2 separate regions of the Homo sapiens genome follow, and region 1 is linked to region 2. A link means that fine-mapping ties the variant in region 2 to the expression of a gene that starts in the linked region. Tissue or cell type: whole blood. Region 2 holds a variant in brackets; the other region holds the start of a gene. All regions are shown on one strand. Distances are between the middles of the regions.

Region 1 (5,371 bases), 26 kb before region 2:
ACCTCTGCCTCTGGGTTCAAGCGATTCTCCTGCCTCAGCTCCCAAGCAGCTGGGACTACAGGCATGCGCCACCACGCCCGGCTAATTTTTTTTGTATTTTTATTAGAGATGGGGCTTTCACCATGTTGGCCAGGCTGGTCTCAAACTCCTCACCTCAGGTTGTCCACCCACCTCAGCCTCCCAAAGTGCTGGGATTAGAGGCGTGAGCCACCGAGCCCGGGCACACTATTTTTAACTGGAAGCTGCTTTCCTATGTCAGTCCTCTAAACATTAATTTTTATAAAAGTGTGTAAAACCTTCCTAGGAAAGATAAAAATAAATTTTAAAAATTGTTTCTAAATGAAATGTCAATATCAGAATTTGAACAACCACTTAAGCTATGGAGTTTTCTGAAATGAATAACCATTAACTGTGTTTGGTTTTCAGCCCCTGTCTATTAAGTGTATTCAGTGTTTTCAGGCCTATCACAATCGTTTTTCCTTTTTTTAAAAAAAATTGAAGGCTGGGTGTGGTGGCTCACACCTGTAATCCAAGCACTTTGCAAGTCCGAGGCAGGTGGATCACCTGAGGTCAAGAGTTTGAGACCAGCCTGGCCAACATGGTGAAACCTCATCTCTACTAAAAAAATAAAAATTAGTAGGCCAGGCGTGGTGGCTCACACCTGTAATCCCAGCACTTTGGGAGGCCGAGGCGGGTGGATCACATAAGGTTGGGAGTTCGAGACCAGCCCGACCACCACGGAGAAACCCCGTCTCTACTAAAAATACAAAATTAGCCAGGCATGATGGCAGGTGCCTGTAGTCCCAGCTACTCGGGAAGCTGAACCAGGAGAATCGCTTGAACCTGGGAGGCAGAGGTTGCAGTGAGCCGAGATCTCGCCATTGCACTCCAGCCTGGGCAACAAGAGCGAAACTGCGTCTCAAAAAAACAAAAAACAAAAAAATTAGCTGGGTGTGGCGGGGCAGGTCTGTAGTCTCACCTACTCGGAAGGCTGAGGTACGATAATCACTTGAACCCGGGAGGTGGAGTTTACAGTGAGTCGGGATCCTGCCATTGCACTCCAGCCTGGGTGACAGAGCAAGACTGAAAAAACCAAAAATTTAAAAAAAAAACACTTCCCTCCTAAGGTTCAATCCAATTCATTTAAACTTTTGCGTGTTTTTCTTATATCAGTTAAAATAGGGATTCAATATCCTTAGAAATATAGCCTTTTCTGTTTTAAATATAACATCTAAAAATTGTAGTAAAATACAAATAACAAATATTTACCATGTTCATCATTTTTAAGTCTAAAGTTCAGTGGCGTTAGATACGTTCCTGTTGTGCAATATTATAGACTTCCTTTTTTTTTTTTTTTTTTTTTTGAGACGGAGTCTTGCTGTGTCCCCCAGGCTGGAGTGCAGTGGAATGATCTTGACTCACTGCAACCTCTGCCTCCCTGGGTTCAAGCGATTCTTTTTGTTTTTGTTGTTGTTGTTTGTTTGTTTGTTTGTTTTTGAGACGGAGTCTCGCTTTGTCACCCAGGCTGGAGTGGTGGAGTGCAGTGGCGCGATCTCGGCTCACTGCAACCTCTGCCTCCCGGGTTCACGCCATTCTCCCGCCTCAGCCTCCCGAGTAGCTGGGACTACAGGCACCCGCCACCAGGCCTGGCTAATTTTTTTGTATTTTTTAGTAGAGACGGGGTTTCACCGTGTTAGCCAGGATGGTCTCGATCTCCTGACCTCGTGATCCGCCCGCCTCGGCCTCCCAAAGTGCTGGGATTACAGGCGTGAGCCACCGTGCCCGGCCTCAAGCGATTCTCTTGCCTCAGCCTCCCTAGCTGGGATTACAGGTGCGCGCCACCACGCCCGGCTAATTTTGTATTTTTAGTAGAGACAGGGTTTTGCCATGTTGGGCAGGCTGGTCTTGAACTCCTGACCTCAGGTGATCCGCCCGCCTCGGCCTCCCAAAGTGCTGGGATTACAGGCGTGAGCCACAGCGCCCGGCCAGCTTTTCAATCTTCCAAATTTTGGGGGGATGTACTTAAAAAAATGATCTGAAAACATTTTCCTTAGAGTTTAAAATATGAACTTGAGAGTTTTTTTGTTTTTTAATATGGAGTCTCACTCTGTCGCCCAGGCTAGACTGCAGTGGGGCGATCTCGGGTCACTACAACCTCCACCTCTCGGGTTCAAGCAATTCTCCTGCCCCAGCATCCCCAGTAGCTGAGATTACAGGCGCCCGGCACCACGCCGGGCTGATTTCTGTATTTTTAGTAGAGAAAGGGTTTCACCATATTGGCCACGATGGTCTCAAACTCCTGAACTCAGATGATCCGTCCACCTCGGTCTCCCAAAGTGCTGGGATTACAGGCGTGAGCCACTGCGCCCAGCCAAATGTGAGGGTTTTAATGAACATCTCATATCTTCTGGTTGATTTGAGCAAAGCTCCTGCCCCCTGCCAGGCTTTGGGTTCGGCCTCCCCCAGACCGGGTCTCCGGATTCGCAGCCCCCTGGGCGGGGTCTCCATGTCGCCCGCAGCGCGATGACGTCACGTCTGCGGGTCCCGCCCCCACGTAGGTCTCGGCCCTTCGGACCCGGCGCCCAGCCCCCGTTCGCCCTGCCAGGCCCGGGCCGCCCGCTTGCATCCACCTCCTGTCCGGACAAGGGGTCGCCTCGTGAGGAAACTAGTCTGGAGTTCCCACGCCCGTCCCGGAGGAGGACGCGGGCGGGGCGCCCGAACTGCGGGGAGAGGGCGATTCCGCCCCGGGCTGAAACCAGTTCGCCCAGAAGCCAGTGTCCCCGCAGGGCGGGACAGCCACGCGTGTTCGCAACGCTCCCGTCACTCACCGGCAGGGGGTGGGCCCTAGGGAACTACCCAGTCAGGACGGGCGGGGGCGGGGCCGAGACAAGTATCCAATGAGGGACGCCCAATCGGAATCCGGGGAACTGCCCAATTTACAGCGCCAGGGGACGGACTGGGGAATTCTCCAATCAGAGTCGCCGACGTTGGCAGCACTGTCCAATCAGAAGCGCGGCTTCCCGAGCTCTGTCTAATCAGGCCCCTGGGACGGGACGCCTCTGTCCTAGCCGTGAGTGCCCCGCCTGCCCCTAGCGGTCCCTGGCGTCCCGGTTCCTGTCGCGCTCACCTGCGCCGGTAGCGAAGAAATCGCCCCGGGACATGGTGAGTGTGGCGCAGGAGAGGATCCCGGTGCGGGGCAGCAGGAACCGGCGACCGCCCGAGACCGCGGCTTGGGGGGAGCTGAGGGACGCGGGGGGCGGCCCCGGCGAGGGCGGCGCAGGACGGGAGCCTGGGCCCCGGGGGTCCCGCCCGGCCCCGCCTCCCGCGCTGAGGTCGCGGCTAGGGCGCTCCGAGCTCCGGGTCCCCGCCCGCCTCTGGCCCCAAGGCTGCAGAGCGGGGAGCGGCGCCCGGAGCCCGACTCCGTCCCCGTCGTCCCGGGGTCCCCGCGTCCCTGCGCTCCCGACCCCCCACGCCCCGCCCGGGGCCGCGACGCCTCGGAGCGTTTCGCTGCGGCTTCGGGACCCCCGGGCCGCGGGAGGCAGAGTCGCCCGAGACCCCGAGGTGCGGTCCAGGCTCCCCCGGGACCCGCCCTGGGGCCGACGCCGCGGTGCCTCCTGGGGTGCGGGTCCCTGGTCGGTGCCGCCTCCGCTCGCGCTCCCGCGGCTCAGCTCCTTGGAGGCCCCGCGCCTCCGGCCGCGGTCTCTGGGGGACCCTGGGTTCCTCCCGGGACAGCCCGGGAGCGGTGGGGCCTCGGCGGGGGCGGAGACGCCCCCACCTGCAAAGGCAGCCCCTGGGGCGTGCGAGGTTTCCTCCCCTGAGTCCCGGTTTTCCTTCTTGAGGACTTCTTGTCCCCTCTGACCCCAAGATGCCTGGGGTAGGTAAGGGGAAAAAAAACAAGGGTTCCTGGTCCCTGGGCTCTCACACACAAGGAAGAAAAGTAACTGAAAAGACTAGAGAAACAAGGGAGAGCGAGGACCCCAAAAGCAAACGCACGCAGACCCACAGCGGGGACGCCCGGGAGGCTGGTGCATTAGTGTCCTCGGACTGCTGTAGCAACTGACTGCAAACGAGGGGGCTAAAACCACGGAAATATATTCTTTCACGGTTCCCTAGAAAGTGTGGATTTGAAGACGTTTCTCAGTTCTGTTTTGAGTACTAGCAATGGGATTCCTTGCTGAGGCAACACCTGAGTTGGGGGTGGGAGGGCGTCCGTCGTGGTAGCCTGGCCAGACTTGACCCCTCCCTGGGTTTGTCACTGTGAAAAGATTTTCCTTTTTTCGAGTCAGCAGTTTTTAGGAAGTGAAACGTACATTTAATTAGTAGAAGTTGGAAGATAAAATATTTCCAGGCCGGGCGCGGTGGCTCAAGCCTGTCATCCCAGCACTGTGACAGGCCGAGGGGAGCAGATTACTTGAGGTCAGGAGTTGGGGACCAGCCTGGCCAACATGGAGAAACCCCGTCTCTGCTAGAAATACAAAAATTAGCTGGGCGTGGTGGCGGGTGCCTGTAGTCCCAGCTACTCGGGAGGCTGAGGCGGGAAAATCACTTGAACGCAGAAGGCGGAGGTTGCGGTGAGCTGAGAACGCGCCATTGCACTCCAGCCTGGGTGACAGAGCGAGACTCCGTCTCAAAAAAAAAAAAAAACTTCCAACGGGGTGAATTTCAGGAAAAAAATTAAAATCTGTGTCTTACATTCCATTTGTTAAACATTCCCTGGAGTGTGTGTCGTTTCTCAGATCTGTTATTTTCTGTTTTCTTTTATTACTATTATTTTTTTGGGAGCTCTGTTGCCCATGCTGGAGTGCACTGGTGCGATCACAGCTCACTGCAGCCTCCACCTCCTGGGCTCAAGCAATCTTCCTGCCTCAGCCTTCTGAACACAGGGACTCCAGGTGTGTGCCGCCATGCCTAAGCTTTTGTATTTTTTTGTTTCTAGGGATGGGGTCTCATTCTGTTACCCAGGCTGGTCTCGAACTCCTGAGCTCAGGTGATTCTCCCTCCTCGACCAGCCTTGTTCTTTTCTTTTGAATGACAATAAATAGGATTCCAGGGCCTAAACTTCAAAATGTTACTGGGGAGAAGAGTCTCAGAGAAACAGAGAAAATCTCCTTTCCACCATACGTGCAGAAAAATGAATACATTGCCACGAAACATGTTGCAGATAAATTATACAAATTTACCAAAATATGTTATTCTCCTTGACATGGTAGAGAATTTTTGACGGTGGATGATTCTGTTCTGCTTCCAATACTGCAGTACCCTTACCTTAATTCTATAATACATTTTTTGTTGTTCCTGAAATAGGTAGAATACAAGATATTTTTCTTGTTTAGATGACAATTTGTCCCAGCTCCTTATATTAAAGTGTTTA
Region 2 (5,371 bases):
TGTCGAGTCTGCCAGGGAGCGTTGTCCTTCACGGAAAGCATCTAAAGCATTAGCTCTCTGCTGCGTGTGGTTAGAGTGTGCTGAACGTTTTCCGATGGCTTCATGGTTTGAGTTGACAGGATGACATCATGTGTGCCTAAGGCAGTGCCCGTGGTGGCCCAAAAAGTATGTGCAATGAGCAGAAAATTAGCACACTTGTCTCAAGAGGAGGTTTGGGAGTGGGTGTGAGATGGAGCAGGGACTCCCTCTTCACGGCCTGTGGATCTCCCAGGCATAGAAATAAAGAACAATCTTGCTTTTCTTCAAGGTAAATTTCAGTCACCTAGTTAGCCCCAAGAAGTAAATATGCAACTTGATAAGCAAGAAGGTAACGGTAGCCTAAAACAATAGCCAAGGAAGCTAGAAGCATCGGATGTGTAGTTCTCCTGTAGAAACTAAAGATGGTGGCCGGGCGCGGCGGCTCACGCCTGTAATCCCAGCGCTTTGGGAGGCTGAGGCGGGCGGATCACGAGGTCAGGAGATCGAGACCATCCTGGCTAACACGGTGAAACCCTGTCTCTATTAAAAACACACAAAAAATTAGCCGGGCATGGTGGCAGGCGCCTGTAGTCCCAGCTATTCGGGAGGCTAAGGCAGGAGAATGGCGTGAACCCTGGAGGCAGAACTTGCAGTGAGCCCAGATCGTGCCACTGCACTCCAGCCTGGGCAACAGAGCGTGACTCTGTCTCAAAAAAAAAAAAAAAAAAAAAAAGAAAGAAAAAGAAAAAGAAAGAAAGAAGCATGTGTTATGGGTTGTACTCTAAGGTGCCAGTAAGTCTGATGATCAGGACAAAGTAGGGGGCCCTAAAGGCTGGGGTCGAGCCTAAGTAAAGCTGCACACAGTGGAGAAGACCCGTTTAGAAGACCATGTGTGGTCTGTAATGTCAGCAAGGTTTGTTTGAGCCATCAGTTCTAGGAGGCCTCTAGCCCGAGAGTATAAGAGAGCAGAAAGTTGCTTTGAACGCCTTGTTCAAGAGCCCAGCGTTGGCCAGGCATGGTGGCTCATGCCTGTAATCCCAGCACTTTGGGAGGCTGAGACAGGTGGATCACGAGGTCAAGAGACCAAGACCATCCTGACCAACATGGTGAAACCCTGTCTCTACTAAAAATACAAAAATTAGCTGGGCGTAGTGGCGGGCACCTGTAGTCCCAGCTACTGGGGATGCTGAGGCAGGAGAACCGCTTGAACCCGGGAGGTAGGGGTTGCAGTGAGCTGAGATTGCACCACTACACTCCAGCCTGGTGACTAAGCGAGACTCCATCTCAAAAAATTAAAATAAAATAAATAAATAAATAAATAAATAAAAGAGCCCAGTGTTGTGTTGGAACAGGAATTAAAACAGATTAAAGAATGTGTAAGCAGAAACTCAGTTGTATGTAAGAAAACCCAATTCCCCCTGAGAACAAGAAAGAGCTGGAGTCTTTTAAAAATTAACTGCCTGTTTTTCTGTGGCTAGTGAGCCTTATCTCTCCTCCCTTCCCAGGCATTGTGAAGGCCCTGTTTCCCTAGTTGTGCAGCTGCAAGTTCACTAGACAGATAAACTCAAGTTGCAAAACATGTTTTGCCTTGAAAAGTAAGAAATGATGTAATGCACGTCTCAATTAATTGAATAACTCTCTTTGTCTCTCGCTTCTGTAATATGCTTCCCCCTGCACAGATCTCCCCCGGCCCCACAAAATGCTTCAAAGGTAACTTAACTCTTTGTTCAGGGCTCAGTCCTTTGGGTGTTAATCGGACTGGGCTGGTGCAGCTAAATAATAAATATCCTCCTGAACCCCATCGGTCTCTCTGATTCCTTATCAATCTCGCTACAGTGTCGTTTGAGAAAAGAACTGAGCACCTTGATCACTGTCAGTAGCATCTGTAACCCCAAGGGAAGGGCGGGTCTTGGTGAAACCCTGTATTGTGGCTCAGCAGGAGAACGTCTGGTGGGATTGGTAAGGAATATTTGCATTTAAGTGGCTTCCGTGATCACAGTATACGGAATAGCCTCTGCAAAGGTGGGCGGGGACCCTATAAAATCTATTTGCTCTCAGCCCTACCAACAGGCTTCCAGGGATTATGCCTCCTTGATTATATGTCATTTGCCTGTAGACTATTCATCTGCCTGCACATTGAGCGCTCAGCTGTGGTGTTTGAGTTTTCATAGGTACACAGATATTCGTGACCTTGATTTTTACTTGAGAAACTGTGAGGCAAAATATCCCCAGAGTGCTTTAACCTCAAAATATTGACCTAGGATACAGTTGTTGCCACAGTTTTTTTTAAGTGTGTTTTCGGTTTTTTTGTTTTGTTTTGTTTTCTATGTTTTTGTTGTTGTTGTTGTTTTTGAGACGGAGTTTCCCTCTTGTTGCCTAGGCTGAGTGCAGTGGGGCAATCTCAGCTCACTGCAACCTCCGCCTTCCAGGTTCAAGCGATTCTTCCCCCTTAGCCTCCGAGTAGCTGGGATTACAGGCACCCAC[C/G]ACCACACCCGGCTAATTTTTTGTATTTTTAGTAAAGACAGGGTTTCATCATGTTGGCCACACTGGTCTCAAACTCCTGACCTCAGGTGATCCACCCACCTTGGCCTCCCAAAGTGCTGTGATTACAGGCATGAGCCACCGCGCCCGGCTGGCTAGACCATTGCTAATGGCTCAAGAGTTCAGTTCTAGCAATTGTGCTGACCCTAGTTAGGGAATGGTAAAGCTTTCGTTGGTCACTCACTTGACCCCATGGGCCTCCCCAGGTGTCTACTGGTCAGGAGAGAGAGGGGACCTCCTCCAGTGTCATGGAATCTGACAACAGACTGAGGACAGAAGAAGCTGCTTTTTTCTACGGTGGATACCCCAAGGGCCCAGGTTTCCCTCTAAGTCAGTACCACTTTCATTTCAGGAAGGAGACCACCGTGGATGGGGGCTGCTGCCTGCAGGACCCGAGACCTGAAAACTGACCAATCAGGCAGCTGGGGTGGGGCCTAGAGAACTGACCAATCAGGGGAGTTGAGGTGGAGCATCCGGATGAGAACTGTCAATCAGGGGGGTTGGGGCAGAGCCTGGAGACCTGTCAAATCAAAGGAGCTGAGGCAGGGCGTGGAAACATGACCAATTAGGAAAGCTGGGGTGGGGCCTGAAGAACTGCCCAATCAGGGGAGCTCAGGGGATAGCAAGCTGACCAACCAGAAGAGGAGGGGCAGAGTCTAAAGAACTGTCCAATCAGGGGAGTTGGGATGTGACTGGTGAACTCTCCAATCAGAGATGAGCAGAGAAGAGAACCATCCAATCACAGCCCCAGGGGCGGGGCGTTGCTGTCCTCCCTGCAGAGCACACCCGGCCTGCCCTGAGTGACCACAGGTGTCCCCGTCGTGCTCACCTGCACCGGCTGCGAGGAGCAGGGAGCTCCTCAAAGAGCTCAGGAACGGACAGGACATGGTGAGTGCAGGGCAGGAGCCGAGCCGGAGCCGGAGCCCTGGGAGGGGAGGGTTGGAAGCGGCCAGAACACGCTGAAACTCCCGGGGGAGCCGCCCGGAACCCCCATGCAGCCTCTGTCCCTGTGTCACCCCCGGGTCCTGCGGGGAGTTTCCTCCCCTGCCCCAGTCTTCATTCCCTGGAAAGTCGTAGTTGTCAGGACGCTGGGATGGAGGGGAAAAAAAGGCAGAAATGACTCCTGCCCTGTGGGGTCTCGCGAAGTTAATTGGAAGAAAAACTAACCCAAAGTACAAAAAACAAAACAAAAAAAAAAAAAACCTCACCCCAGCGAGGCGGTGCAACAGCCCCAAAGCAGAATGCGCTTTGGATGCAGACTTTGGGCCCAGGCCCACGTCCCTGGGAGGGGCGAGGGGTGGACAGGTGGTGCGGGCGCTCCACGTGGCGGCACGGGCTGGCCTGACCCCAAAGGCCCGCAGGCCGGACTCCAGCCCAGCCGCCCCTGCCTGGGCCTCTCTCCTTCTAAAGATTGATTTGGTTACTTGAGCCTCAGATTTTTTCAGTCAATGGAACATACAGTAAATAATAGAGTTTGAAAGATAAAATATTTCCAAGGAGGTGAATTTCAGAAAAAAATAAAGTTCTCGTCTTACATTCCATTTGTTAAAAATTCTAGCGTGCCTTTTTTTTTTCTTTTTATTTTCTGTTCCTTTTTTGCCCGTGTGGTTAAGTTTCTCACATCTGTTGTTTTATTTTCGGTGATGACAAATGGGATTCCAGGGCTTAGCCCTTGACGGGGCTCCCGGGAAAAAGAATCGCAGAGAAAGAGAGAAAATCTCTCTTTTATTATGACACGCCCCGAAATGAATACATTCCTACAAGAAAAAAATGTTTGGTATATAATTTGGTGAATTACAAAAACTCGCTAAAATATCAGTTATTCTCCTTTTCCAGGATGGAGAATTTGTGATAGATGATAATTCTGTTCTTTTATTTTTTGTTTTTATTTTTTGAAACGGAGTCTTGCTCTGTCACCCAGGCTGGAGTGCAGTGGCGCGATCTCGGCTCACTGCAACCTCCGCCTCCTGAGTTCAAGCGATTGATTCTCCTGCCTCAGCCTCCCCAGCAGCTGGGACTACAGGTGTGTGCCACCACGTCCAGCTAATTTTTGTATTTTTAGTGGAGACAGGGTTTTACCATGTTGGCCAAGCTGGTCTCCAACTCCTGACCTCAGGTGATCCACCCGCCTTGGCCTCCCAGAATGCTTGGATTACAGGCAGCATGTGCCACCATGACTAGCTAATTTTTTTTTTTTTTTCAGATGGAGCCTCGCTCTGTCACCCAGGCTGGAGTGCAATGGCGCGATCTCTGCTTACTGCAACCTCCGCCTCCTGGGTTCAAGCGATTCTCCTACCTCAGCCTCCCGAATAGCTGGGATTACAGGCACGTGTGGCCACACCCAGCTAATTTTTGTATTTTTAGTAGAGACGGGGTTCCACCATGTTGGCCAGGCTGGTCTCGAACTCCTGACCTCAGCTGATCCACCCACCTCAGCCTCCCAAAGTGCTGGGATTACAGGCGTGAGCCACCACACCTGGCCCCTTTATCACTCTTTTATATTCACTCATAGGGATATATTGTTAGTGTTCATTAATTCCACTGCTTGCTAGTGACTATTCGGGTATTTTCAAATTTTTTCCATTGTGACCAGTGCCCCTAAAGACATTATTACATGTGTGTCCACTTGAATGCCTTATTCTCAGCTGCACTGCAGTATATCCTCATCCTCTCCCCAAGAGCCTGGTCCACATATTACCGCCTACATCTCAGTTGCTGGTAACTCCATTATTCCAGCTTTCCTGTGTGAAATAATTAGTCTTCCTTGATTCTTCCTGCTCTGTCTTGCCCCACCTTGAGCCCATGAGGAAAT

Evidence for each region. PIP is the estimated chance that this variant, and not a neighbour inherited with it, causes the effect. A credible set is the group of variants that fine-mapping cannot tell apart.
Region 1: ZNF555 starts here. The variant in region 2 is the best candidate, but not a certain one, in a credible set for the expression of ZNF555 in whole blood (INTERVAL, PIP 0.79).

Annotation. Positions count from the first base shown.
Region 1 is chr19:2,838,414-2,843,784 of GRCh38, forward strand. It overlaps ZNF555 (zinc finger protein 555), which reads left to right and starts at 3,062. Exons shown (of 4, transcript NM_152791.5): 1 at 3,062-3,162. The coding sequence starts at 3,160. RefSeq lists silencers at 2,523-2,632, 2,643-2,832, 3,053-3,352, 3,393-3,442.
Region 2 is chr19:2,863,978-2,869,348 of GRCh38, forward strand. ZNF556 (zinc finger protein 556) reads left to right here and starts at 3,358. Exons shown (of 4, transcript NM_024967.3): 1 at 3,358-3,447. The coding sequence starts at 3,445. The variant C/G (reference allele first, on the strand shown) is at 2,503.